6 separate regions of the Homo sapiens genome follow, and all the other regions are linked to region 1. The links come from fine-mapping of genetic effects on gene expression. A gene starts in region 1. Each other region holds a variant in brackets. All regions are shown on one strand. Distances are from middle to middle. Region 1 holds the start of CCDC18-AS1 (CCDC18 antisense RNA 1). Region 2 overlaps CCDC18 (coiled-coil domain containing 18). Region 3 has its middle 49 kb from the start of FNBP1L. Region 4 overlaps CCDC18 (coiled-coil domain containing 18). Region 5 overlaps FNBP1L (formin binding protein 1 like). Region 6 overlaps CCDC18 (coiled-coil domain containing 18).

Region 1 (4,954 bases):
AAGGCAAGTTCTCACCTCAAATTGAGTACAACTCTTTCACAAGAGTACATGTAAAAATATCGCAAAAGGTACGTTCCCGAAACATTATGAATAGTAAATATGTTTCTCCTCTCTGAAACCACCAGAATACAGTCCCCCAAATCCCTATTACGGGACCAAATCCTTTCCAGGATAAAAGAAACTGTTGAAGTTTTCAGAAGTGCTGTTCCATAAAAGCCTAAGTGTATACATTCAAATAGGAATGACAGCAGGAAAGGACGGGGAAATTTTCCGTTAAAAAAAAAACTTGCATAAACTTTCAATCAAAGATTTCAAAACTTATCTCCACAGAATAGAACAAAGCAAACGACATAAAAGCAAACGAAAAGAAAAAAACGAAAATTTAAAGTTCACCCTATTCTTACAGAATGGAACAGGAGTTATTTGGTAACTCATTCATGAACGTACCATCAAACCATTTTTAGAGCAGAAAACATACACCTTTTATTTAACAACGATAAACTTGACAACGTTGAACACATTGTATGTTAAGAATTTTTTAACTCATGTGTTCAGAAAATAAATCTTTTCCTCTACATTGGTGAAAGGTCAGGTGGGGAAGGGGGTGCTCTGTCTCCACCCACGTTGAAGTTCCTCCGTCTGAATTTTAACTTTCCAAAGGAGAATTTCTGCGTTCCTTAATTATTATCTAAGTTCAACTTCAGGCAAGTAATTCTTGTTGCTTCGGCTTACCTGGCTGTAAAGTGAGATCACTCTTATTCTTTACGTTTTGGGGACGCTGACCTAAATGTTTGCACTCCTTACATGTATTCGCTGGATGAAAAGTACTGCAAAAATGCTACAAAGGGATTGTTTTTAAAGCACCGGCTGCCTACATGCCAGTCTGGCTTTTTCATTAAGTTACTTACCAGGGAAGAGGAATGGAGGCTTTGACACGAAAGGGTCACGCGATTAGCAGACTGCTACCCTAGAACCTCATTCAAACCAGCTCTCACACACGACTTACCTTGTATGACATGCTCTGGTGAGATGGTCTTCTTTTCCGATTTGTTACAAATCTCATTGGCTTCAGAAGATATAAGGTGAATGAATTCAGTGCAGCAGTTCACCACCAGCTCTCGAGCATCGTTGGCCACCCGGACATTAGGAAGAGTCTCTTTGATCATTTTATTGATAGCAGCTCTGGGGATAGTGAGATCATCATCGTTGCCAGACGAGGAAGCCATAGTACCTTCCTGTTTCTCGCGCCCCGGCTTTTAAAAACTCCCCAGCTCTGGTCCACTACTCCACCGAGATTTCTCAAAAAGTCGCCCTCGGAGAGTGATCCCGGGGGGTGCTTTGCGAAGAGGGTGCAGAAAATGAACGGAGGAGCAGCTGGCTTGAGGGCTGGGAACACTCGCGTGTGTGAGAGATTTAGGATGAGTTTGGGAAGAAAGTGGGGGCCCGAGGATTCTAGAGAGAGCACAGCCCAGGCTGAGGAGGGGAAAGCGCGGTGGTCCGGAAATTTGAGCGGCTGGGGAACCACCTTCGTGTCTCCTCAGAGGGGCGGGCGCTGTCGCCTAACTGGTCCCCAACGGCGTCGGAGCAGAGGCAAGATCCAGGGGCACTGGCCTCGCCGCGGTACCGGGCGGGTACCCAGCGGGCTCGGCTCTATAGAGCCCGAGGCCCCGCTGCCGCTGCCGCCGCCGCCAGCAGCCGTTGCCGCCGCCTCGGCCAAACCATCCTTCAGACACCCGCGCCGCCGCCTCACAACATGTCCGCCGCTGCCGCTGCCGCTGCCGCTGCTGGAACGGCGACGGCCGCCTGGGAACTAATATGGACAGAGCCAGGCACAGTGGGAGTCGCAGTGGCTGCCGCCGTGGCCGCGTAGCCCGAACGCAGATCGTGGAAGCCGAAGACGCGGCAACGGTGGTCCCTCCAGATGCCAGGGAAGGTTTGCAGGAAGCCGCTCCCGACACCCTTTGCGCCACCGGAAGCCTCGTTCCCTCAGATTTCCCCCTCCCTCCCGGACCGACTTCCGGGTGTGGCTGCCGCCCTTCCCCCACCCACGCCGGCGGGAGCCGCCCGTTCGCGCTGCCAGCAGCTTCCGCCTGCTACGGTCCTGGCAAGCACCTCGGGATCCCATTCCTTCACAGGGACCCTAGCCAGGCAAGCGCGCGCCTCACTGTACCGGAGAGCTCCAAGCACGCGCTTGGTCTGGGGCCCGGACGCTACATCTGGGAAGGGGTGGGTGGCTGGGTAGATAGGCGAGGAAGGATCGTCTCTACCCTCTCTCAAGTAGCTGAGGCCTCCGAAACCTTCCCTAGCTGGATTTGGGGACAGAGGAGCGCTGGTATTGATAAAATAACTCTCTTTGCTATTCCTTTAGGAGCCCAAATGAGGATTGAAAGTGAGAAGAATGGGACCTGGGCTTGGGGGTGGGAGGTGGGGAAAGCAGAACCCCGTGTGCCTGTTTCTGCGTCGTCTGGAGAAAAAGCTTTTCAAGATGTCTGATAGACCTTATTCGGTTCAAAGCTCTCTAAAGTCCTTCACCTTTTTTTTTTTAAACTTCATGAAAAATGAAACATTTCAGAGAAGTTACTTGCCTAGAGGCAACTAAGTCGCCTAATGGCTAAGTAGGAAAGCAGAAGTCAGTTCCAACATAGTGGAAATGGAGTGGAAATGCATGGCATACAATGAGCTATATTAGAAGGTTCCCATTTAGACAGTTTTCATGTTGTATTCCATGTTGGCTTCTACAGGGGAAAAAAGTGTTAGAGCATCTTAAGCAACTGTTTTTACTTCTTTCCATAGTGACTAGTAATATCAACAGGTGTCAAGGTCTAAACAGAAATTGCATTTAAAAAAAAAAAAAGTGTGTCAGCCAGGCGTTGTGGCTCATCATACCTGTAAACCCAACACTTTGGGAGGCTGAGGCAGGGGGATCACATGAGCCCAGGAGTTCAAGACCCGCCTGGGCAACATAGTGAGACCCGTCCCTACAAAAAAAAAAAATATATATATATATATATATAATATATATTTATATATATAAATATATATTCCAACATCCCACTGTTTATAGTATAGCCTCTTCTATATGACAATATGAAACACGGGTTTTTTTTTCACCAGGCTTGGTGGCAGGCACCCGTAGTCCCGGCTACTCTGGAGGGCGAGGTGGGAGGATCGATTGAGCCAGGGGGTCAAGGCTGCAGTGAGTTGCGGTTGTGCCACTGCACTTCCAGCCTGGGTGACAGAACAAGATTCTTTGTCTCAAAAAAGATAAAAAAAAAAAAAAAGTAAAAAAACTGAGTCTGTCATACTGTCATGTGGAAGAAGAGGCTATACTATAAATAGTGGGATGTTGGAATTTCTAAAAACTAAACAAGACACTGTTGAAATCCATTTTGTCACTTTGGTTCATCAGATTCATTACTCTTGATACATATGATGGCAACTGGCTTGTTGACAGTGTTTTCTTAAAACGTTCTGTCTGAGCCCTATATGCTGCTCTCAAGAAGACATTACAGTTTATTATGCTATTTTTTCATTTAGCATTTTCTGCAGGACAACTTACTGGTTCTTTAATTTCTGAAGTGTAGACACTTGTTTTTCAGTGCTACTAAATTTAGTCAAAACAAAATTTCTTTGATTAAAAACAGTATTTTAATTAAATTTTCTTCAGGCTGGGCATGGTGGCTCATGCTTGTAATACCAGCACTTTTGAGAGGCCAAGGGGGGCGGATCACTTAAGCTCAGGAGTTCGAGACCAGCCTGGCCAACATGGTGAAACCTCACCTCTTCTAAAAATACAAAAATTAGCTGGGTGTGGTGGTGGGCACCTGTAATCCCAGTTACTTGGGAGGCTGAGACAGGAGAATCGCTTGAACTCTGGAGGCAAAACTTGTAGTGAGCCAAGATCGTACCACTACACTCCAGCCTGGGAGACAGAGCACGACTCTATCTCAAAAAAAAAAAAATACTTTATGAAGTGGTGGGTTTGTTTTTTTTTGTCAGTTTACTGTTGATTTAAAGATTTATTATGGTGCCTAAATTTATCTTGACCTTAACAAGTTTATCCGTCTGAAAAAGCTGGCTGGCAAAAAATGTCCCAAGTTGTCACAGTGTCACTGACCCTTATCTTGTCTCTCCTGAAAAAACTATAACTTTGCTTTTTCATGTAACATTTATGTTTATAGACTTATGCTAAATAGACGAGTAGAGCACACATTATTTCAGTAATAGTTTATTGCTACAGGCTTCTGTGGTAGCATAAACAGAATTGAATGTGTAGTAAGAGTTGTAGGTTCCAGTCCCAGCTTTTTTTTTTACTTAGACAAGTCACTCTCCAAGCCTCATTTTCTTCAGTTCAGATATAGAAATATTATGTAACACACAGGATTCAAAATCAAATGAGAGTTGTGTGAAAGTACTTTTTATAGTATGAAGTGTTATATAATGTTAGTGTCTTTTATCATCTTTATCAGGCTTGGTCAGTCTTCAACTAGTAATGAACCATGTAACTAGTTTATTACATACGTGGCTGAGAGAAATTTAATTGGATATAAATACCAGTGTGATATGTCATAAAATATGCTAATCTGTAGCCCATATTTAAATAGTTATTTATAGTACACTACATGTATCTGTATTATAAATAGGCTTTTAAGGACAAAGAGAACATCTCCTTATTAAGCTTTAAGAGTTTCAGAGAGAATGCATATATATGAAACTTTTTTTTTTCATGTTGTCTAGGTGTGGTAGTGCACACCTGTGATCCTACCTACTTGGGAGGCTGAGGTGGCAGGATCACTTGAGCCCAGGAGGCTGAGGCTGCAGTGAGCCATGACACTACTACACTCCAGCCTAGGTGACAGAGTGAGACCCTGCCTCAAGAAAAGGAAAAAAAAAGTTTAGCCTCAGAGTAGGGTTAGGGGAGTGTCACTGTCAAAAACAGTGGAGTTGAAAGGGA
Region 2 (4,954 bases), 110 kb after region 1:
AAGGATAAAGTGATAATGCAGTCAGTCTTCACAGACTCAAGGTGGACACCAGTGGTGAGGCCATGTTAGTGAGTAGAACATCTGTCAATGGAAGAAAGAAGGTGTGAAATACTTTGGTCTTAGTCTTAAACTTGGGAAGCCCTCAACCCTGCTGAGAGGGTGACAGACATCTGAGGAAGCAAGTTGCTCCTCTGAGCACAAAGGACCCCTGTCAATGGAGGAGAGGGAACCTGGGGACATGTGGTTTTAGTGCCAGTGCCTAAGTTCACTCTTGACTCCTGTTGGTAGAAGGGTGGGCTGATTATGTTATAAATTATGTCAATTCTTCCCAACAAAGTAGAAGAGATCTGAAGAGGCTGGGTACTGCTTTCAGCTCATGGGTTCCTTTCTTGACCAATTAAGTATCGATGCCTGGGACCAGCCTAGCCAAATTAAATCAGAATCTTTAGGTTTTATTTAATCTAAAAGTGGGACCCAGTCATCAGTATGTTTTTTTACAAGCTCTTGAGGTGATTTTAATATTCACTCAAGGCTGAGAACCACTTTTATATTGTCATTCTTCCCCTATATAATTGGATTGCCTGAAAGTTTCCTCTATGTGAGTACATTTACATTTTTGCCTACAACTTTTAATGTTATTCACAATTAACAGTTGCTGAGTGCCTATGAGGTATAAGGAACTGTGCCAGTTGTTGTGTAAGACCCTAAAATAAACCAGGTATGATCCTTGCCTTAAGAAACTTATAGTAGGAAGGTTAAAAGCATTAAACTGTAATACAGTAAAAAGCATAATGAGAGATATGAAGGAAATACAAACAAAATGCAATAGGAACACAGACTATGGAGACATTAATTCCTCAAGCAAATGCTCCACTGAACATTATCTGATTTCAAAACTCAGATACCACTGATATTGAAGTGGGAAGGTAAATAAAACATATTCACATTTTACCTGGCAGTGCCAGTAAGCTCAATCACTTTTTGCCTTTTCAAATCTGCTTCATGTGCAGCTGATTCACATTTCTCCTCCATTTTTCTCAACTTTTCAGCTGAACTTTCCCTTTGTTTTTGAAGTTCTTGTTCCAGTTTTGACACCTTGTAAAGCAGTTTTCAGTAAACATTTTAAATTCAGAAGAAAAATACTTTTATAAATATGTAACCTAGCTTATCAGTTTCAAGATGTATCATAAAAATCAACATATAGACCAAGAAGTAATGTTTGGAAAATATAAAAAGCAAGGCTTACTTTCTAATAATAAAGATACTTCACATACATATTACTATTTAGGGAAGTGGCCACATCATAACACTAAAGTGTTAAAATAATTGAACAAAATGATAGTAAATATTCCCCTTTTCATTGTCCCCATTTGAAATGCCCTTTCTTCTCTTACCATACTGCTCCTTTCTTTTCTTCACGAATTGGCTCACTCAATAGATTCCTAGATTTCCACATGACCTCAAATGCTAATTTGCATTTGCTCCCATCTTAACTTGAATCTGTTCCTATTCATTCTTCCTCTATTCTACTACAATAAAGGAGGTATTCTTCCTCCTTTATATAAATCAAACTGCTTCATAGGTGTTGTGGATTCAATTCCTATTCATTTTTTCAGGAACTTCATACTACTATCTCCTCTTTCCAATATCTTCAGTCTCTCTACTGTTTTTTTAATATTAGCATTTAAACATGTTAAAAGACTTTCCCACTGTAAAAAGCTTTTCTTCAGACCTTGACCTCCCTCTACCTACTACCCTTTATTTCCTCCCATATATAGCCCAACTTCTCAAAGTTTTCTATGCATGTTGTATCACTGTCTCACTTCTCATTCTTCAACCCATAGCCAGAGGCCATTCCACAGAAACAGGGATTACAACACCAGTGACTTCCAAGTTGCTAATTCCAATGGACATTTCCCAACCTTCATTTTACTTGACACTGATTCCAGTAGCCCATGACAGCAACATTCATTCCTTCCTTAATGAAATACTTACTTTGGCTTCCATGTATCACATCCCTCAGGGATCTGTCCAAGTCAATCTTCTTGCTTCTCATTCTATATTCTCTCCCTAGGTAATTTCAGTCACTCCATGTCTTCATGAATATTTATATGACTGTGGTCTCAAAGTTAACCTCTCAACTCTGACCTGCATATCCCCCGTTCTTCTAAAATCCCTCACTGAAGAACTAAATATAGATCATAAACCATTAATATCTTGCCAGGTGCGGTGGTTCACACCTATAATCCCAGCACTTTGGGAGGCCAAGGAGGGTGGATTTCTTAAGCCCAAGAGTTCGAGACCAGCCTGGGCAACATGGTGAAACTCTGTCTCTACCAAAAAAAAAAAAAAGAAAAAAAAAGAAAAGCCACACACACACACACACACACACACACACACACACACTCTTAGCTGGGCATGGTGGTATGCACTTGGAAGGCAGAAGTGGGAAAATCACCTGAGCCCAGGGAAGTTGAGGCTGCACTGAGCCATGATCATGTCACTGCACTCCAGCCTGGGTGACAAAGTAAGACCCGGTCTCAAAACAAAACAAAACAA[G/AACAAAACAAG]AAAACCCCATTAATATCCACCCCTCCACCTCAAGTTTCAAGAAGAAAATTAAAACAGTACCCAGGTAAAAAGGGAAAGGAACCAAGGAAAATCCACCTACTCAATTCTTAATTAAATAGAGAAATCTGAAGATGCAAAATGGAACCTATGCACAGTGTAATATGAATGAAAGGCAGAAAAGGAATACCAAGTCAAAAATTTACTCCAAATACTGAAGAAATTTTTAGATATAAACTTCTGTAGACCTCAGTGAAGCTAATGAGAACACAAAATCTTTTAAAACAAGATCACAAAGAAAATCACCAAATAAAAAATACAAATGAGGCCAGGCGCAGTGGCTCACGCCTGTAATCCCAGCACTTTGGGAGGCTGAGGTGGGCGAATCACAAGATCAAGAGATCAAGACCATCCTGGCCAACATGGTGAAACCCCGCCTCTACTAAAAAAACAAAAATTAGCTGGATGTGGTGGTGCGCACCTGTAGTCCCAGCTACTCGGGAGGCTGAGGCAGGAGAATCACTTGAACCTGGGAGACAGAGGTTGCAGTGAGCCAAGATCGCACCACTGCACTCCAGCCTGGCGACACAGTGAGACTACGTCTCAAAAAGAGAAAAAAAAGAAAAAAAAGTGAACTTGTTAAAAAAAAACAAAACAAAACAGAAAAAACCATACAACCATTATAGAAGTGAGTTAGGAACAAGAATCATAATCAATCCTGCAAGAACCAGAGTCAATGACAAAGGATGTAGGCAGTGGGAATCAAACATAGATGAGAAGAAGAAATGCTTCAGGATGAAGCTGTATAGTAGGCATAGCAAGCAGTAGGTCTAAATTTTAACAAAAGGGATGGAGAGTCACAGGAAGATGTCTCTTGAAAAAAAATAGAGGCCAGGAGCAGTGGCTCACGCCTGTAATCCCAGCACTTTGGGAGGCCCAAGTGGGTGGATCACCAGAGAAGGGAGTTTGAGACGAGCCTGACCAACATGGAGAAACCCTGTCTCTACTAAAAATACAAAATTAGCTGGGTGTGGTGGCACATGCCTGTAATCCCAGCTACTCAGGTCGCTGAGGTGGGAGAATCGCTTGAACCCGGGAGGCGGAGGTTGCAGTGAGCTGAGATCGCGCCATTGCACTCCAGCCTGGGTGACAAGAGTGAAACTCCGTCTCAAAAAAAAAATACAGAATACCTGCCTGATGTGTTTAAATGTAGTGAGAGGAAGATACTTTAGTTCCACTGGACAGGCTGAGGAGGACTTCAGAACAAGTAGATAAAAGACCGAAAAAATGACAAAAAAGGAAAATACAGTAAGATTACAGGGGACGATCATTTTCTAATTTACACATTACTGTAAATTTGATTTCTTTTCAAAGAAAAAACAAAATAAGAATGTAAAATATCTAAAGAATTCAGATAAATTCAGTAATGAATTAAAGGAAAAAGATTAGATTCTAGTATAAAATTCTCTAGAATTCTTACATTCAAGTAAGTAATAATTTTTAATTTTAGAACTTTCAGGGGTATTTTCCCTTGGGATTTTTCTTTTAGTGCACTGCTTTGCCATTTCTTTAAGGAATATCACATACCATGTCCTGATCCAAAAAGGAAAAATTATAGGTATTCAGATTAGGTACAAGAAGAGAGATTGAATAAAGAAACATGAATTATAAATTGTATGGAACAGCAAACATATAATCATGGTATAAGAGATGGAGGTCAGATTACATAGGAATAGAACTTTATTTTACAATATCAGTATAGAGTATTTCTTATAATGCAAAATCCTTGAGGTTTAACAGCAATTTTTTTTTTTTTAGGCGGAGTCTCACTCTGTCGCCCAGGCTGGAGTGCAAGGGCACGATTGCAGCTCACTGCAACCTCCACCTCTTGGGTTCAAGCAATTCTTGTGTCTCAGCCTCCTCAGTAGCTGGGGTTACAGGCATGTGCCACAATGCCTGGCTAAGTTTTGTATTTTTAGTAGAGACGAGGTTTGGCCATGTTGGCCAGGCTCGTCTCGAACTCCTGACCTCAGGTGATCCGCCTGCCTCAGCCTCCCAAAGTGCTGGAATTATGGGCACGAGCCACGGCATCTGGCCAAACAGCAATTTAAAAAACTAACGAAAAATCTATTCATGATTTTAAAAATTTCTATTTCATACAAATAAAACAATCTTGGGCTAATAATATATACCTGTTTTTCAAGTTTAGTTTGAGTATCTTCTAGCTCTCCATTTCTAATTGTCTCTTGTTGTAACATTTGCTGCTGTTGCTGAAGAGTATGCTGTAGAATAACGTTTTGCTCAGAAGTCTCTTGAAGACTGTGATTTTTTATCTTTAGCTCTTTCTGTAAACAATATACCTGGCAAATATATATATATATCTCTCAATACAATGCA
Region 3 (4,954 bases), 53 kb before region 1:
CCAGATGCTTATAAAACCATCAGATCTCGTGAGACTCACTCACTATCATGAGAACAGCATGTAGGAAACTGCCCCCATGATCTAATTACCTCTGCCTGGTCCTGCCCTTGACACATAGGGAGTATGGGGATTACAATTCAAGATGAGATTTTGGGTAGGGACAAAGCCAAACCATACGGCACAAGACATTAATCAATACATGTAAGATTTACTTTGGCTTGATCTGGAAGGATGGGACAACTCAAAGCAGGGGCTTCCAGGTCATAGGTAGATTTAAGCATATTCTGATTGGCAATTGGCAATTGGTAGCAGGCTTCAGAGAAAATAGATTGTAAATGTTTCTTATCAGACTTAAGGTCTGTGTTGATGTTAATGCTGGAGAGGTATAATAAGGTATGTCCAACCCCTCCCACCCTTCCTGTCAGTCATGGCCCCAACCAGTCTTTCAGGTTAAATTTTAGAGTGTCCTGGCCAAGGAGGCAGTCCATTCAGATGGTTGAAGGGAGGCCTTTGAATTTTATTTTTGGTTTACGTTCTGAAAGGACTGGGAACCCCAAGACACATAAGCTATCAAGCAGCACACTCTTTGTTCAGAATGTGCCAAGCTCTCAGGGGAGTTTGTCTCTTTTTTTTTTTTTTAAGAGACAGGGTCTCACTCTCTCACCCAGGCTGGAGTGCAGTGGTGCAAAATAGCTCGCTGCATCCTCAAACTCCTGGGCTCAAGGGATCCTCTTGCCTCAGCCCAGTGGCTGGGACTACAGGTGTGTACCACCATGCCTGGCTAATTTCTCTCTCTTTTTTTTGTTTAGGGGAGTGGGAGATGTTGCCCAAGCTGATCACGAACTCCTGGCCTCAAGGGATCCTCTTGCCTTGCTTCCCAAAGTGTTGGGATTATAGGTGTGAGCCACCACACTCGGCCAGGGAAGTTTGTCTTCATAAGAAGTCTTAACCATAAGGGACTTTTGTTGCCTCGTTAGTTCTGGGAAAGTCTAATCCAAAGAGAACCTACCTGTTGTCACCAATTAAAGGATCTGTGACTGGTAGTCCCCTATAAATTTGTGGGTTATTGAAGTGTAGAGGCTAAAGCAATTCCATTTTGAATGCTTATCCACAATGTTGACTTCTGATTCCCTGTTCTGAGAATACCTCTAAGATTTCTACTTTACTGTTACTGTAAATTCTGCCCTTAGGTCAAATAACCTTGACTTTAAATCCTGCCCTTTGGCAGATTCACATAGCATTCTTGCCTTTCCCTGGGTGTTGACTTCACTTGTCCTACACATTCCTCCCCTGTGGTATGTAAACCCTGGGCCTGGGAGGGTAAATGGTGCAGGGATCCACTATCTTGTCTTGCCATCAAACAAGACACAGAGATGGCTTCTCTTTGTTAATTCCCTATTAAATCTTTCTTCCTGAAAAACTGGATTGTCAGCCTGTTTCTTCAGCCTCTCAGCTTCCTTAAACTTTGGGGGTAGATTTGCATAGACTTGCTCCCTGCAGAACATGAAGGAACAGTGCACACAAACACCATTCTTTACCATCTGTGACAAGAGGTTTTTGCTATTTTGGCCTATTTCTGGGAGTGAATTTGGGGAAATCATGGGAATTAGCTGTTCTATGCCCTCTCCAGGGATACGCTTGCTTATGTGGTAAAAACTTATTCCAAACCTGGAAAATTACCTGCTGGTCTATCCATGAAGAGGTTTATTGAATTGAGTTGCTATTGAAATAAATACATAGTTGGAAATTCTAATCGTTAGTGGCCAGAAGATGGATCCTTTGGACTAGAAAGACTCCTATATCTGAAAAATATTTTACTCCATTCTAAGTAATTGCCTTATTTGTTTTTGTGGGAGGATCAAATTGAAAGAAAGACACATATTAGTGTCATGACTAGCCTTAGAAATTCTCCTTAAAAAAAAAAGCAGAAATCAGATTTAAAACAAAGTTAAAATCCTTTGTACACTAAAACTGCCTGCTTTGGATTCCCCACAGGATTTAAAAAGGAGACATTTCAACTTGTAGTCTAGTCTTATATTCCTAGATGTAGGCCAAGCTAACTTTGGGAAGAACTTAGTTTATAGTTTAATCTTAAAGCAAAGATGATAATAACCCCTTCCCCAAGCTAACCCACCTTTGCAGAACTAATGAAAGGCCATAAGGTTAGGATTATGAGTGGGGTCTGAATGCTGATAAGATGTAGATATAGTTTCTATAATCCCTTACTTCTCAGGAGTCAAGTGGCCAGAGGTCACAAGATTTGTGACCTCTCCAATTGCTCCTATAGATCACATCACTATTGTAGAACCTGACATTGGTGTTTTGAGATTTTTTTCAGACTGTCTTGCAACTAACTGACCCCATCTGGACCCATGACTCATAACTCAACTGGTCCTGTGGCCCCTATCCAAGGTGGAGTTGGCACATGTGGACCATTTTCCATACCCCTATGATTTCATCCCCACCCAATCTGCAGCACCCATTCCCTATCCCCCTGTCCACCAAATTGTCCAAAACGTTGGCTTCCCGGAGACTTGTTATCCCATTTACTTTTATTCTTCCTTCCTTTTTTGCCACCTTTGATACCACA[C/T]GAAGAGATCTAGAGGGGACTCTTAGCAACTATGACACTCCTTAAGGAAGACCAAAAAGGTGCCTCTGACCACATTTTGGGGTCTCCTGTCTTCTTCATGAAGCACCAAAAGTCATGAGAAGGTTCTTCTCAGGTGTAAAACCCTAACTCCTGAGCCTTCGTGGAGACTGATTTGAGTGATAACTCCAGTTCTTCCACATGGCTGACCTTACATCAATTAAACTCTTTCTCTATTGCAATGCCATGCTCTAAATGAATTGATTCTGTCTGTAGAGCAGGCAGGAAGAACTCATTGGGTGATTACAGGTTTGATATTTGTGTGTAACTCTTGACTTTTGGAGTACCCATTTATTACTGTTCTTGTTCCCTTCCATGGACAGCTTTTAGTTTCCTGTCTTACTAATTGTTTGTCTATTTTAATCTTCCCTCTATGGGGCATGCAATTGCTGAGACTTTATGTGAAGATGGTTAGTTGATAAGCCAAGACCCTAAAGAACATGGTTGGTCAGAAATGTATATTGTACCCCATTTGCAACTAGTAAATTTTTTTTCCTTGAGCTGTCTTTGGGGTAGTTCTGGTTCTTGTGAGAACTGCTTTGCACCTTTTTGGAGATGCCTTATGCATCCTTGGTTAAGTCATAAAAGGCTTATAGGTTTTGGTTGGAGTCACTTGGAAGATAACTTTGATTTAAAGAAGTTCAAAACCAAGAATATTGGCTGTTTGTCATGGCTAAACTCTGACAGATTTTAAAAGATTGTTTTTAAAAAGCTTTATGTGGTCAGAAGCCAGCTTAATTAAAAACTGATATTCAAACTAAAAGTTTTTTTAAGGCCTTTCTGCTTTTTCTCTTTTGGATCTTGTTTCTCCCATGAGAATTTTTTTCAGTTTACTGAAACTCTTTATAAAAAGTTATATGTTTGGGCTGGACATGGTGGCTTATGCCTGTAATCCCAACATTTTGGGAGGCTGAGACAGATCATTTAAGCCCAGGAGTTCAAGGCCAGCTTGGGCAACATATGGAGAACTCATGTCTACAAAAAAAAAAAAAAAATTACCTGAGTATGGTGGCATGCACCTGTGGTCCCACCTACTTGGGAGCCTGAGATGAGAGGGTCACTCGAGCCTGGGAGGTCGAGGCTGCAGTGAGCCATGATGGTGCCAATGCACTCCAGCCTGGGTGACAGAGTGAGACCCTGTCTCAAAATTGTATGTGTGCGTGTGTGTTTATGTACATATACATACACATGTGTGTGCGTATATATATATGTGAGTGTGTAAAATATGTTTCATCCCTCTGTTTGCTTCCTTTCCTGTTGGTATAATTTTTTGCTTAGAAAAAGGTAAAACTTCACTGACTTTTTTTGAGAAGTTTTAAATCTCCCCAAATTGGCTTCCCTGAGACTTATTATCCCATTTACTTTTATTCTTCCTTCCTTTACCACCTTTGATACCACACGAAGAGATCTAGAGGGGAACCCTAGCAACTATGACACTCCTTAAGGAAGACCAAAAAGGTGCCTCTGACCACATTTTGGGGTCTTCTGTCTTCTTCATGAAGCACCAAAAGTCATGAGCAGGTTCTTCTCAGGTCTAAAGCTCTGCTCTCATTTGCACTGAGCTCCCTGACAGCTTTGGCTTTGAGGGTACCAGAAGTTACTTTGTACTGTGAGAGAATACCTGATCCTTGAGTATGCAATGGCTGGCTCTACATTCAGTGGCTGCAGTCACTGGTGAGGGCTGCAGTTTTGGAGGTGGCTGACAGTGGTTGCAATGAATAGGTATTACACAGAGGCTACTTTTTTTTATTTTTATTTTTTGCATGGCTAGATTTTTTTTTTTTTTTTTTTTTTTAATGAGACAGAATCTCGCTCTTTCGCCCAGGCCGGACTGCAGTGGCGCTATCTCGGCTCACTGCAAGTTCCGCCTCCTGGGTTCACTCCATTCTCCTGCCTCAGCCTCCCGAGCAGCTGGGACTACAGGTGCCCGCCACCACGCCCAGCTAATTTTTTGTATTTTTAGTAGAGATGGGGTTTCACCGTGTTAGCCAGGATGGTCTCCATCTCCTGATCTCGTGATCCGCCCTCCTCGGGCTCCCAAAGTGCTTGCATGGCTAGATTTTTTAAAAAGTACATTTTGGAAACTTGGAGGCTGTAGGAACACTCACCACCAAAGGATAAGACTCCTATGGGGGATAGGCTGATCACAGAGTGGGCTGGAGTCCTACCAGCCTTGGGGGACTTTTATTGAGTCACCCACCAGCCTTGGGGAACTTTCCTTCTAGTGAGATACACTGTAGAAGATTGCACGACCTGTTTCCATGACCTTTCTCTCTTGGACTTTTGCCTCCACTCTGAGAAACTGGA
Region 4 (4,954 bases), 140 kb after region 1:
ATCATAGTGTAATTGGCAGCATCTTTCTTTCTTAAAAGTATATCTTGCAATCGATAACCGATTCTAAAAAATACTCTAGTAAAAAGTATCTTTACTTCCTCCTCCTTGGCAAAAATACTAAACAGACTACCTTAAGGAAAGTATGGCAAAATTAGACAAATCAGTCATTGATTGCTTCCTGCTCCCCCTTTTTTTTAAATTAACAGTTTGAAGTGATAAAGACTGGTTAATATTAACCTCTGAAAGTTGATGGGTGTTAGTTTTGAGAGGACAACATGATGTACTAAAAGAGAGCATTGGAGTCAGAAGACTTCGATCTTTCAGACCTTCAGTAAATTCTGGCTACTCTCGGGGCTTCTGTTTACTTATAAAATGAGAAGTCTGGACTAGGTAATTTTTTATGATTTGAAAAACACTTTTTTTTAGAACATCGGATATTATACACATTTTACTAGTGAGTTAATGTGGTTATACATCAAGGACATTATATCTATTAATTTTCTCTAAATATATGCAAAGCAAATATGTTGATCAGTATGTCTCCGTATTTACAAATATTATTAGCATTAACACATTTTACTTCACTTCTAATTCTAACTCTATAGCTAGAAAACAGTTTCAGTCATGAAGCCTATCCTTCTATATAATGTAAGCCTATAATTACAACAATAAAATATTGTGTTTTAAAGTGTTTCAGTTTTTTCCATGTCCACACAAAAATCCTTTTTCTACAACAGAATACTGTACCTTAATTTCTCTTTCAGAATTTCAAGTTCACTTTTATATAGACCACACCTTTCTTGTAGCCTTTTATTTTCTTTTTCACAGTTAGTTAGATTTCTCTCTAATATTTCTTCTTCAGCTTGAACCTAAAACAATAATTTAAGTGGACATACTAATGTGGTTGTAAGTTTTAGGTGTTTCAAGCTAAAAATGTCAGTAGTGATTTCAGAAATAAGCAGGAGAGTAGACTAAGAATTTCATACATTTAAGTCCCCAGCCTTGTAGTGAAAAGAAGCAAAGTGAAGTTCCTGGGCAGTAGCAAAGGACAGAGAAAAAGACACTACTACCTGTCCAGAAAACCTGTAACAGATAGGCAATTGCATCAACTGAAGTCAAAAATTCATCTACAGCTGCTGCGTCCGAGTTACTAAAGGTTAATTTCAGTGCAAATATTCCAGAGAAGTTACTTTTGAAATTTGAACCACAAAATTTACCAACGAAACCACAGCCCAAAATGTAGAACAGAAAAAAGCACCCAAGATACACTGTTGAGAGGAGAAGATTGGGTAGATCTGCCCCAATTCCTTTGTTACCCTGTTACATCCACCTAACTATAGGGCTTTGCTGAGCATTGTTTGCAATTGATAATCCTAAGTGTAAAAAAACAAAACCTGTCTCTTACATTCTTCTCTCCTTCTCCATAAAGTCCTTCTTCTCCCCAAGCATATTCCTCCTACTAGGTCTTCTACCTCCCCTTACTGATCACCTTATTAAAAATCCCTTCTAAGATATTTCATTCCCACAAGGACCCTCTTTAGCTCTCAAAACAGCGTTCTGATTAACTAATTCACACTTAAGATTTCAGTACCCTAAAACTTAAAGTATAATAATAATAAAATTTAAAAAAAAAAGATTTCAGTACCTAGTGAGACCTTAATATTTTACACTGCCAAGTGATACTCACAGTTTTACTGCAAAGGAATGACCACTTTGTAATCAACTGCAGACTTTCTCCTTGATCTCAGTATTTAATATTGTTGGTAACTTCTCCTCTAAAATATTTTATCATGTAGCTGTCATGATAATATTACACTTGACTCTGGCCACTCTTGTTTTCCTTGCTTCCTTTTATTAACTCATCATTCCTGACTGCTCTTTTCTTTCCATATATTCTCTCAAAAGTTTAGCAAATTTCTTGGCTTTCCTTATTGCAAATATATTATGAGAAATACTCACCCCAAGTTTCCAAAATCCCTCCTATCCTCCTTACGCTATGAAAATCACTTAAGCAACATCTTAATTTATGAGACCAAAGACATTTAATTCAAAATCGTTCAATTTCCTTCCACCTAAAACTTTTTTCTGTTTTTATCCACTTTTTTCCCATAAAGAAATGTCCTATTTCATTAAAAAAAAGAATCTCACTTCTGCTCTTGGACTATCATCTTGCATATCATTCAGACCCTTGTGCCATCTTTTATTCCTTATAATTCTAGCATCTTCAATCTCCCCCTACTAATATGTTCAGGATACCCTTAGGTGCTTTACCACAGCTTCTTCACCTTAACTTAGCTTCTTTCTACCCTTCCATTCGCTGCCTCTCCCAACCCACCACACACACTTATTTCCTCTTCACCTACCGTATGTAAAGAATTGTCTGTTAGCTACCTCTACCCCCTCCCTTTCCATTTCTCCCATTTCAGAGGTTGTGCCTTCTACTTTAATAAGTTGCTCTCTACAAAGTATCCAATGACTCCCTGATTATAAAAACCAATAGCCCTGTCTTGTTCCTCATCTTTCTAAATTTTTTTTTTCTGATTTTTTACAGACAGGGTCTTGCTCTTTCACTCAGGCCTGAGTGCAG[T/G]GGCATTATCATGGCTTAATGCAGCCTCTAACTCCTGAGTTCAAGCAATCCTTCTACCTCAGCCTGCTGAGTAGCTGGAATTACAGGCATAAGCCACCACACCTGGTTCAGTCCTCATTCTTCTTGACCAATTTGCAACATCTGGCACTGAAGATCACCACCTTCTTTTTAAAATGTTCTATCACCTTGGCTTTTCTTATTATACTTTCCTGATTCTCTAATTTTTTTAAATCACTTCTCGATATCTTTCAAAAGCTAATCTACCTGTTCTTTATCTCCCAGGGTATCTTTCATCTTGTTCTCATTCTATATGAACTCTGTCAATGTCCAAGGCTTCTACCACTTTAATTCAGTACTGTTAATTCTCAAAACTACAGCCCTAGTACAGATTTGTATGTCTAAATCCAGACCTATAGATACAAAAGCCTACCTATAACTGGATATTCTACAGACATTTCCAAAATAGAACTCATTAACTTTTTTTCTTAAACTGTCTATTTTGATTCATGATGCAATCATCCAGCAGTCACTCAAACCAGCAACCTAAAAATATCCTATATTCTTCTTTCTCATACTGCCCGCTTCTAATGCATTCAAGTGGTCACTAGATCCCACTGATTCCCCAACTTTAACATCCCTCATAGCTACCTACTCAGCTCCTTCATCTTCAATATCTCTTGCCTTGTCTTTTAAAGTCTCCTTGACTTGTCTCTCACCTCTCAAATGCATCTTCACATGACATCAGGGTGAGCTTCCTAGAACATAGATTTTGATCATTTTCCCTGGTTAACACTGTTCAAAGATATATCACAATCTTTGAGATAGCCTAGCAGCTCAAGCATTGCCTACTCTGTGAAGCCTTCTTTGGGCCCACCAGAGTTTATTAACCACTGCCACCTTCACCCACCCTACCACACCTACCTCTTATTTCTATATTATACTTATTCCAAAATACTGAAATTATTTGTTTACATACTTGTCAATCTTACTAGACAGTGAGCTCTTTAGGATAGGTATCATGTGTTATGTATCACCGAATCTCCCAGAGACTAGCACAGTACCTGGCATGTAAAAGGAATTTCATGATTGTTTAATAAATGAACACCCATCTTCTTACTCTACCCTTCTACCTGAACATTCCTTCCTCTGCCTTTCTACCTTTCTTGGATCAGAATCATAAACTTCCTCTGCTTTCATTGCTATCTCAAGATGGAAGTCTCCCATATTAGTATCTCTTTACCAGACCTCTCTTTTGAGCTCAATATCTGAATATCCAACTGTGGTGTTCCTCCATACACATTTCATTACCATGTGATATTACTTAAAGATAATAAATGAATATAATAAATGAATGTAATAAACTCACTATTATTTCTATATCAAATCAGTTCAAGGAACCTTCCGAGAGGCAGAAGCAAGCCCCTCTCAGAGTAGCAGACTGAGGGAGACCAGTTGAAAGCTACATAATCTATCTTCATTTTCATTGAAGTGATAAAAATGAATTTCTTTTTTCTACTTCTTTAGCTCCAGTCTCTGTTAACACATTCCATCCTTCTCTGTATTTTGTTCCTTCTCCTCTCTCTACTCTTTTCCCTCTTTGGATAAAAAAGTTTCTCCTGATAATAAAAGGGTTGGTGAACATCATCCTTAACTAACATTTACAAATTGTTTATTTAAATGATTTTGTAAGATCATAAAAATTACTCTCTGTCTCAACCATAAACATATTTTAATTATTCCTACCTTTACTGTTGGAATATAGACAGTAATACAAAACACTGAATTTGCACAACTGCCTTTTACCTTTTCCAGTTTTTCAGCCACTTTTTTTTTATATTGTTGGAAAGCTTTACTCAGCTCTTCGGCATTATATAGTGCTTCATTCCTTTGTCGTTCAGCTCTAAAATTTAAAAAGAGATAATGAATAAAAGTGAAGAATGCTCTGCATTTGAAGAGTTAAGTTCCAAAGTAATCTTTAATTATAAGGAATAATTGGAGAGAAACAAATTTCTCTGCACTAAAAAGGAGTATTAGGCTTAAAGTATAAAATGAAGAATGTAGATCATACTACAAAAATTTTCTCACTCTATCAATATGAAAAATAAAACACAAAACAATAATAAACATAAATGTCGAAATATATATAAATTCTTATGTGTTGGCAATTTTTTTTTTCCCTATCTGGAAAAGACAGATTAGGGAAATAGCCTGAGGCTGGATGATACATTTTCAAAGGTTAGGTATTACAGAATCAGTCTATTGTCTAGAATATTAAATATACTCAGTAAATTCTGTGACCTTTGCAAAGGTCAAATAAATTTCAAATAGTTATTTCAAAAAATGGTAACTTCTATTGATACCAGATAT
Region 5 (4,954 bases), 110 kb before region 1:
GTATTTTTAGTGGAGACGGTGTTTTGTCATGTTGCCTAGGCTGGTCTCATATCTCTGGCCTCAAGGGATCCACCCACCTTGGCCTCCCAAAGTGCTGGGATTACAGGCGTGAGCCACCATGCTCAGCCCACAGAGGATATACTGTAAAACTCCCAGTGGATGCCTAAAACCTCGTGTAGTACCAAAGTCTATATGGGTCTATACTGTTTTTCCTATACTTCTATACTTGCCATAAAGTTCAATTTATAAATTAAGCACAGTAAGAGATTAACAACAATACTAATAATAAAAGAGAACAATTAGAACAATAAATAGTAATAAAAGTTATGTGAATGTTTATTTCTGAAAATTTCCATTTAATATTTTCAGACCACAGTTGACCACAAAAAGCAAAACTGAAGGGTGGATTACTGTAATATTCTTCCATTCCATGGGCTGTCTTTTCACTCTGTTGACTGCTTCCTTTGTTGTGTAGAAGCTTTTTAGCTTGATGTAATCCCTCTTGTCCATTTTGCTTTTGTTGCCTGTGTTTTTGGAGTCATAACTAAAAAATCTCTGCCCAGATCAATGTCATGGAACTATATTTTCTTCTAGTATTTTTACAGTTTCAGGTCCTATGTTTAAGTCTTTAAGCCATTTTAAGTTGATTTTTGTATATGGTGTGACATGAAGGTCTAGTTTCATTCTTCTGGGCTGGGCACGGTAGCTCATGCCTGTAATCCCAACACTTTGAGAGGCTGGGGCAGGAGGATCACTTGGGCCTAGAAGTTCAAGACCAGCATGGGCAACACAGTAAGACCCCATCTCTATCTAAAAACAAAAAATTCATTCTTCTGCATGTGGATATCCAGTTTTCCTCCTCAAAAACCTGTCTTTGATCTATAAAAAGAACTAAGAGAAGATATTGCTCCAAGATACTAGTAGAAGATGCTATTTTAAAATTACATTCAGAAAACAAAACCAAAAAAACACAGCTCTTAGAAATCAAAATAGCAAAAATTAAAAACTTAATATAAGAAATTCCTGTTTCCGGCCGGGCGTCGTGGCTCACGCCTGTAATCCCAGCACTCTGGGAGGCTGAGGCGGCAGATCATGAGGTCAGGAGGTCGAGACCATCCTGGTTAGCACGGTGAAACCCTGTCTCTACTAAAAACTCAAAAAATTAGCCAGGCGTGGTGGCGGGCGCCTGTAGTCCCAGCTACTCGGGAGGCTGAGGCAGGAGAATGGTGTGAACCCAGGAGGCAGAGCTTGCAGTGAGCCAAGATCGTGCCACTGCACTCCAGCCTGAGCAACAGAGTGTGACTCCATCTCAAAAAAAATTAATAATAATAATAATAATAAATGAAATAAAAAATAAATAAAATAAAATAAAAAATAAATTCCTGTTTCCAGTAATGGTGGGCTAAGTTATCTGGGTCAACTATCACTATTTAACTTAATAAAAAATCTGGATAAAATATATATCAAAATTTTTAAATCATCAAAGATAAGCCAAGAAACGTGAAGTAAAAAGGAGAATCCAGAAAGGTAAAAGAGCACATAAGCTACTCTTGCCCTGAGGATGTTTGCCAATCTTGAAAAATTAGAATCACTGTTTTGCTAGTCTAGCAAGAGATACAGGGGAAAAAAATCAAAATCCAACAACCACACAAGGGAACTGCACATTTTAAAACTAGTTTAAGGTAGTCCCAGACCAGTAATGACCCCAAGCAAATGGCAGAAGAAAACACAAATTCTATACATAAAATAGAACATTGCAACTAACCACGGAAGGATGAGTCTCACAGATACCAAGGAAGAAGATGCAAAATGGAAGAAAACAGATGTTAAAAAGGAAGAAGGTGCAAAAGAGTACTTACCATACGGTATCATTTATATGAAATTTTAAAACCTACAAAAGTAATCAATGGTGATACAATTCAGAATAGTGGTTGGAGGTCAGACGCAGTGGCTCACACTTGTAATCCCCAGTGCTTTGGGAGGCTGAGGCAGATGGATCACTTGAGCCCAGAAGATCCCAGCCTGGGCAATATGGCTAAACGCTATCTCTACAAAAAATACAAATATTAGCTGGGTGTGGTGGCAAGCACCTGTAGTCCTGCTACTCAGGAGGCTGAGGATGGAGGATCACCTGAGCCAGGTAGGTCGAGGCTGCAGTAAGCTGTGATGGCACCACTGCACTCCAGCCTGGGCTATGGAAGTGAGACCCTGTCTCAAAAAAGATAAGAAAGAAAAGCAATTGGCATATATTAAGCACTCAAATTTGTTGAATCAATAGAGGGATTCAGTGGCTTGTCATCCCCTGTAAATACTCCCCCAAAAGCAACGATTTTTTTTTTTTTTGAGACAGGGTCTTGCTCTATCACCCAAGCTAAAGTGCAGAGGCAGATACCAGCTCACTGCAGCCTCGACTCCTGGGCTCAGGTGATCCTCCCGCCTCAGCCTCCTGAGTAGCTGGGACTACAGGTGCCCACCACCACGCCCAGCTTATTTTTGCTTTTTTTTTTTTTTTTTTTTTGGTAGAGAAGGGGTTTCACCATCTTGCCCAGGCTGGTTTCTCTGGGTTCAAGAGCTCCACCCACCCTGGTCTCCCAAAGTGCTGGAATTACAAGCATGAGCAGCTGCACCTGGCTCCTTTTCTATAAATTGGGTGTGCAGCAAGGACACAGCAAAAACAAAACAGATATCCTTTACTCCCTAAAAACAACAAAATTATGATGTACCAAAAATAG[A/G]AAAATCTCACTCTATACACTGATTCTTTTCAAACTATAACAAGTATACAAATACTAGTATTTCCCGTCTTTCATGAGATATTTGTAAAGTCTGCTGATTAGTTATTTATCAAGAACTTAAGGAAAAAATGCCCCAATTGCCAAACATGAATAACTAATTTGGATTCAACATGGACACTTTACATAAACTTTTATCCTTGTTATTAGAGATTTTTTTTCTTGGGCTCCATACAGATTCTAAATGCTGACTCCCACATTACAAAAAGCAGTCAGACATTATTTTTCCTTGGAGATAGTGTCTCATTATATTGCCCAGGCTGGACTCATTCCTGGGCTCAAGCGATCTTCCTGCCTCAACCTCCCAAATAGTTGAGACTAGAGGGGTGTACCCCCATGCCCAGGTAGATAACATCTCACAATGCCCGACGGCATCCCCCTATAGTATAAAAGAGGTTTCAAAGAACTAGTCAATGAAAATTCTGTAAAACCAATCATAGAAGTTAATACAACTTATTTTGGGAAAAAAAGGAAAATGCCGAAAGGCACAGATGACAATATTAAAATTATCTGTAACACTAACAGATTACTTTTATTATTTTTAAAGCACAATTTGCAGTTTTAAAGCATTTATCATTGTCATCAATTAGAAGGTGATATTTCAAATATTCTAAAATATTTTCTTATTAGAATACTCTTAGTACATAAATCAGCTCATGAAACTAGGAATTAAAGCAGAAGAGTGGGGATCTAAACTAACTGCATTTTTCCCAGTGAACACCCTCTCACCTCCAGAAAAAGCACTGATATTTAAACTGATATAGAAGTAAAAATATAGTTGTCCACCAGCATTGGTATTCGCCATGGATGCTCAAGTCCCTTATAAAATGGCATGTGGCATAGAGCCAGGCACAGTGGCTCATGCCTGTAATCCCAGTACTTTGGGAGGCTGAGGGAGGAAAGTCACTTGAGGCCAGGAGTTCACGACCAGACTGAGCAATACAGCGAGACCTTGTCTCTACAAAAGATACATTAGCTAGGTATGGTGGCACATGCCTGGAGTCCTAGCTACTTGAGAGGTTGACGCAGGAGGATCGCTTGAGCCCAGGAGTTTGAGGCTGCGGTGAGCTATGACTGTGCCACTGCACTCCAGCAAAATAAACAGGCCAGGTGGGGTGGCTCACGCCGCTAATCCCAGCACTCTGGGAGGCCGAGGCGGGTGGACCACGAGGTCAGGAGATCGAGACCATCCTGGATAACATGGGGAAATCCCGTCTCTACTAAAAATACAAAAAATTAGCCAGGCGTGGTGGTGGGCGCCTATAGTCTCTGCTACTCGGAAGGCTGAGGCAGGAGAATGGCATGAACCCATGAGGCAGAGCTTGCAGTGAGCCAAGATCACACCACTGCACTCCAGCCTGGGCGACAGAGCGAGACTCCGTCTCAAAAATAAATAAATAAATAAATAAATAAATAAATAAAAATAAAACAGCACAGTATATGCACATAACCCACATAACCTACACACATCGTCCCATATATTTTAAGTCATCTCTAGACTGCTTATACCTAATACAATGTAAATGATATGTGTAAATAGTTGTTATGCTGTATTGTTTTTAGATCTGTATTATTTTTATTGTTGTATGATTGTTTTAATTAGTATTTCCAGTCCATGGTTGGTTGAATCCACAGACGTGGAAATCAAATGATATGGAGGGCCTACAGTATACAGTCACAGATAAAGGGAAAATAAAAAACAATATAAACGAGCTGTAGTAATAATATATATTTAAAAATAAAACTAATTTCAAATTAGTAACATATTATTAAAGGAAATAACATCCTTCAAATATTCTTGCAGCGGCGCTAAAATAAATACACTTTCATCTTCTAAAACCCAGAGGTATTCCCCTCCTGCCACCAAAGTATTCAGAAGCAAGAGGTAATCCCTTCTACCAATAAACTAAGATTTTCTTCTGTGAATTTTTAAATGGTCTGAAAAGTGGTTTGATTATATACAAATGTGTAACTACACACACACACACACACACAGACACACCCATACACACACACAAGAGGTTCATGAATCAAGCAATCAGCCAGACCAACCTCTTTGCCTGCCTGGTTCCAGTCTACCCTTCATCACTACTTTCAGACATTGTGCACTCAAATTCAAGTCAAACGCAACACTAGACTCAGGTCAGTCCAACAAACATTTATTA
Region 6 (4,954 bases), 130 kb after region 1:
ATATTTGGAAATAAAACACACACAGCCTATGAGTCAAAGAGGAAATCACAAGAGATAACTATTTTGAACTGAATGAAAATGAAAATACAACACATTAAAAAAAGTAGTGGAATACACCCAAAGCACCGCTTAAAGGGAAGTTTCTATCCTTAAATACTTAGATGAGAAAAGAAAAGAGGTCTAAAATCAATAATCTAAACTTTAAGAAAAGTTTTGTGGTTTTTTTGGAAAAAAAAAAAAAGAGAGAAAATTAAGCCTAAAAGTTAACTGGGAAAAAGTACAAAGGATCCTGGTGGAGATGTCTTATGTCTTGACTGTGGTGATGGTAACAAGAGTTAAACATTAAAACACAAACACCTGACAAAACGTATCAAACTGTATATTAAAATGGGTGCATCTTAACTGCAGGGGTCCCCAACCCCTGGGCCACGGACTGGTACCAGTCCATGGCCCATTAGGAACTGGGCCACATAGTAGGAGGTGAGTGGCAGGCGAATGAGCAAAGCTTCATCTGTAGTTACACCCACTCCCAATCGCTCGCATTACTGCTGGAGCTCTACCTCCTGTCAGATTAGCGGCAGCATTAGATTCCCACAGGAACACAAACCCTATTATGAACTGCACATGCGCAGGATCTAGACTGCTCACTCCTTATGAGAATCTAATGCCTGATGATCTGTCACTGTCTGCCATGACCCCCAGATGGAACCTTCTAGTTGCAGGAAAACAAGGTCAGGGCTACCACTGATTCTACATTACGATGAGTTGTATAATTATTTCAACATCAATATGATAATAATATAAATAAATTGCACAATAAATGTCATGCGTTTGAATCATCCTGAAACCAACCCTGACCCTGTCCCTGGTCCATGGAAAAAATGTCTTCCACAAAACCAGTCCCTGGTGCCAAAAAGGTTGGGGACCACTGTTCTATTGGATATCAATTTTACTTCATTAACGAATGATACAAAGTCTAATAATTCTGAAATAACTTTTGCTGTCTTATCAGACCACAACTAGTAACAGATTATCAAGTATGTTTGATAATAGAAACCAAACAGTTGATAAATTTGTTCTTTAAAAACTATCATCTGAGAACACATGGAAACATAGAGGGGAACAACACATACTGGGGTCTATCAGAGGGTGGAGGGTGGAAGGAGGGAGTAGATCAGGAAAAATAATTAAGGGGTACTAGGCTTAATACCTGGGTGATGAAATAATCTGTAAAACAAACCTCCATGACACAAGCTTACCTATGTAACAAATCTGCACATGTATCCCTGAACTTAAATTAAAAAAAAAATTTAAATAAAAGTTTTTTTAAAAAAAAACTATCATCCAAAACTCTGAATATAATTTATTAAAATAACTCAATATACTTACCTACTTGATGACCACCTAGCTTTACAGGTTCTGTTTCTAAACTACTTAATTTGCTACTTTCTTGGCTGTCATTACAAGTAATAAGACTCTGAGATAACTGATTTGCAGTCAGGTTTGCATGAAGCTTTTGAATTTCTGCCTCTTTTATTGCAAGCTTAATTCTGGCACAAAAGAAAAGAAGGGAAAAATTATTAGAAAGATTCTATAAAAAAACTCATACTGTACTATTTTTCACCTTTCAAGTTGATTTAAAAAATTAGAATTCTAATATTAGTCAACTCTTTAGGCAGGATATGAAAACTCCCATATACCACTGTAGAATTATAAATTGGTTCAGCCACTTTACAAACTTGATGGTATTTAGTAAAATTGAAAATGTACACACTGTATGACCCAGCAATTTCACTGTTAGGAATATATACTACAGAAACTCTCATATATATGTATAAGAAAACATGTACAAGGATGTCCTTTGCAGCACTGTTTGTAACAGAAAACAGAAACAAGATACCTATAAAGGAACAAATAAATTATGACACTGTTATAGGACAGAATCCTATACAGCTATTAAAAGTAATTACACAAATCCATTTGTTAATCTACTCTATCTCAATATGAATGAATTTTTTAAATACTGCTGAGTGAAAAAGCAAAATTGCACACAGTATACGGTACATATTTGTGTACATGTGTGTAAACATACAAAAATGAATAGAGAAATATATATCCAATTCATGATGGTGGATACTTAGGGGAAAAATGGGACTAGTCATAAGGATCAAAGGGCATTATTCATCCTGTAATGTTTTATTTTTTATTTGGAGAAACAGATTTAAAACAAATACCACAAATTTTAAGGAGAATCAATCCTGGTTAAGAAGATTCAATTCTTAGTTGTGGAATCACAGATACCTGTTATAATATTCTCTGAGCTTTTCTGTATATTTTTTAAATTCCTCAATTAAGGGTCTTTTTTTTTTTTTTTTAATGGAGTCTCACTCTGTTGCTCAGGCTGGAGTGCAGTGGCACTATCTCAGCTCACTGCAACCACCGCCTCCCGGGTTCAAGTGATTCTCCTGCCTCAGCCTCCCAAGTAGTGGGGATTACAGGCGCGTGCCACCACCATGCCTGGCTAATTTTTGTATTTTTAGTAGAGACGAGGTTTCACCATGTTGGTCAGGCTGGTCTC[G/A]AACTCCTGACCTCGTGATCCGCCTGCCTCAGCCTCCCAAAGTGTTGGGATTACAGGCATGAGCCACCATGCCCGGCCAATTAAGGGTCTTAATTACCAATAAAAAACATTCTATTTGCTATAACTGCAGAATCTGAAAATTGTACCTCAATTCCGAAATCACCAATTTATTTGCCTCACAGCAGCCAATGCAACGGTCTTCCTTGTTTGAGAAGCTACTCATCTGGTATTTAGAAAGATATGATTTAAAGCCAAATAATTCTCTTTTTAACTGCAAGTTTAAAAACAAACATATGTAAACTTATGTAAATGAGATGCATTTGCTTTTTTATTCAGAACTTCAAATTTTAAAAACTGTATGAATTTAATGGAAACAACTTAATGTCCATCAATAGGAGAATATATAAATACATTAAGAAATATTAAGATAATTGGAAAACTACAATAGTTAAAAGAAATAAACCTGAGTCACATAAATCAGTATGGATACATCTCATAACAATATTGAGTGAAAAACAAATTATAGTGGCAAACAGTATTTTCATAAAAACACTAAGCAACATATATATATTTCTAGATGCATCGATATGTGACAATATTTAAAACATGGACGAGAAGGATACACATGAATTTCAGAATAATTGCCATTTCTGAGGAGAGAGGAAGATAATTGGGATCTGACAAGGTACACAAAGAAGATTTACCTGTAAAATTTTATTCTAAAAAAACATAGAGTTGATAAGACAATATGTGTCCCAAATTTTACAAATAAGGTGCTACACTAGCATATGCACCTTTCTGTATGTTTGGATAATACAGAATTTTAAAAGACAGTTATAAAAAGGAGCAAGGTTAGCATTTAATGACTTCTACCTTCAAACTATAACCGAATCACACCTCCTAGAAGTAGAAAAAAATCACATTTTCTAATCGTGTCATTCTTAGCACTACAAGAAACAAACGATCAAGCATACATTACCACATTCGGAATCATATCTCAAATGATTCTTTTTTGAGAGACAGGGTCTCACTCTGTCACCCAGACTGGAGCTTATGATCATAGAGCTCACTGCAGCCTCGAACTCTTGGACTCAAGCAATCCTCCTACCTCAGCTTCTCGAGTAGCTAGGACCACAGGCATGCGCCACCATGCCCAGCTAATTTTTGCATTTTTGTAGAGACAGGGTCTCACTGTATTACCCAAGCTGGTCTTGAACTCTTGCTTCAAGAGTTCCTCTCACCTTGGCCTGCCAAAATGCTGGGATTACAAGCAGGAGCCACTGTGCCTGACCATATATGAAATAATTCTTGATACACAAATGAGAATGCCAAATTAAAATTGTTATCTGTATATGATTACTTTCTAATTTCAAAAGCAAACAGTACATTAAAAATCCAAGCAAATAAACAGCATCCTGGGAAAGCAGATATCAGAGGAGCTAAGATCTTATGTTCTAGTTTAAATTCTACTACTTACCAGTTGGGCAAGTTATTTACTTTCTTGGGTCTAGGTTTCTTCACCAATAAAATAGTATTGAATCAGATGATTTCTGAGATTTTTTTGGTTCATAATTCCACAGTTCATAACAGTTTAACATTGGTAAGTCTACCATCTAGTCTACCATACATTCATATCTGAAACCAACCATAATATATTTACCTATAGTTTCCCCTGATCTTTCCTTCATTTTACACCTATTGATTACAAATTCCTGAATAGGTTTACTTACCTTCTTCTTAATCTCATTTATATATATGGTCACAAATATTACTAAAAGAGAAAAGGTGGTAGACCATTATTATAAAAACATTTTAGGCCAGGCGTGGTGGCTCATGCCTGTAATCCCAGCATTTCGGGAGGCTAAGGCAGGCAGATCACCTGAGGTTGGGAGTTCGAGACCAGCCTGACCAACATGGAGAAACCCTGTCTCTACTAAAAATACAAAATTAGCTGGGCATGGTGGCACATGCCTGTAATCCCAGCTACTCAGGAGGCTGAGGCAGGAGAATCGCTTGAACCCAGGAGGCTGAGGTTGCAGTGCGCCAAGATCTCGCCATTGCACTCCAGCCTGGGCAACAAGAGTGAAACTTCGTTTCAAAAAAATAAAAGGCCGGGCATGGTGGCTCACGCCCATAATCCCAGCAGTTTGGGAGGCCAAGGCAGGGGGATCACGAATTCAAAAGATCAAGACCATCCTGGCCAACATGGTGTAACCCCGTCTCTACTAAAAATACAAAAATTAGATGGGCATGGTGGTGCGTGCTATAGTTTGAGCTGCTTGGGAGGATAAGGCAGGAAAATCGCTTGAATCCGGGAGGCAGAGGTTGCGATGAGCCAAGATGGCACCACTGCACTCCAGCCTGGCGACAAAGCGA

What was found. PIP is the estimated chance that this variant, and not a neighbour inherited with it, causes the effect.
Region 2: its variant is the best candidate, but not a certain one, in a credible set for the expression of CCDC18-AS1 in cerebellum (GTEx, PIP 0.85).
Region 3: its variant is the best candidate, but not a certain one, in a credible set for the expression of CCDC18-AS1 in prostate (GTEx, PIP 0.85).
Region 4: its variant is the best candidate, but not a certain one, in a credible set for the expression of CCDC18-AS1 in whole blood (TOPMed, PIP 0.61).
Region 5: its variant is the best candidate, but not a certain one, in a credible set for the expression of CCDC18-AS1 in visceral fat (GTEx, PIP 0.57).
Region 6: its variant is the best candidate, but not a certain one, in a credible set for the expression of CCDC18-AS1 in whole blood (TOPMed, PIP 0.55).

What each region holds. Positions count from the first base shown.
Region 1 is chr1:93,342,918-93,347,871 of GRCh38, reverse strand. It overlaps CCDC18-AS1 (CCDC18 antisense RNA 1), which reads left to right and starts at 2,061. Exons shown (of 9, transcript NR_034089.1): 1 at 2,061-2,148. It overlaps DR1 (down-regulator of transcription 1), which reads right to left and starts at 1,965. Exons shown (of 3, transcript NM_001938.3): 1 at 1,007-1,965. The coding sequence starts at 1,226. RefSeq lists enhancers at 1,126-1,335, 1,396-1,465, 1,835-2,370.
Region 2 is chr1:93,232,389-93,237,342 of GRCh38, reverse strand. It overlaps CCDC18 (coiled-coil domain containing 18), which reads right to left. Exons shown (of 29, transcript NM_001378204.1): 18 at 4,750-4,917; 19 at 953-1,095. Among named protein-coding and RNA genes, the nearest start is that of CCDC18, 54 kb to the right of the region's middle. The variant G/AACAAAACAAG (reference allele first, on the strand shown) is at 2,560.
Region 3 is chr1:93,396,390-93,401,343 of GRCh38, reverse strand. No RefSeq gene overlaps it. Among named protein-coding and RNA genes, the nearest start is that of FNBP1L, 49 kb to the left of the region's middle. The variant C/T (reference allele first, on the strand shown) is at 2,591.
Region 4 is chr1:93,201,425-93,206,378 of GRCh38, reverse strand. CCDC18 (coiled-coil domain containing 18) reads right to left here. Exons shown (of 29, transcript NM_001378204.1): 7 at 4,391-4,487; 8 at 748-869. Among named protein-coding and RNA genes, the nearest start is that of CCDC18, 23 kb to the right of the region's middle. The variant T/G (reference allele first, on the strand shown) is at 2,588.
Region 5 is chr1:93,454,167-93,459,120 of GRCh38, reverse strand. The region is part of intron 1 of FNBP1L (formin binding protein 1 like); the gene reads right to left. Among named protein-coding and RNA genes, the nearest start is that of FNBP1L, 8.5 kb to the right of the region's middle. RefSeq lists enhancers at 3,393-3,911, 3,912-4,431. The variant A/G (reference allele first, on the strand shown) is at 2,733.
Region 6 is chr1:93,208,697-93,213,650 of GRCh38, reverse strand. CCDC18 (coiled-coil domain containing 18) reads right to left here. Exons shown (of 29, transcript NM_001378204.1): 10 at 2,725-2,849; 11 at 1,390-1,550. Among named protein-coding and RNA genes, the nearest start is that of CCDC18, 30 kb to the right of the region's middle. The variant G/A (reference allele first, on the strand shown) is at 2,579.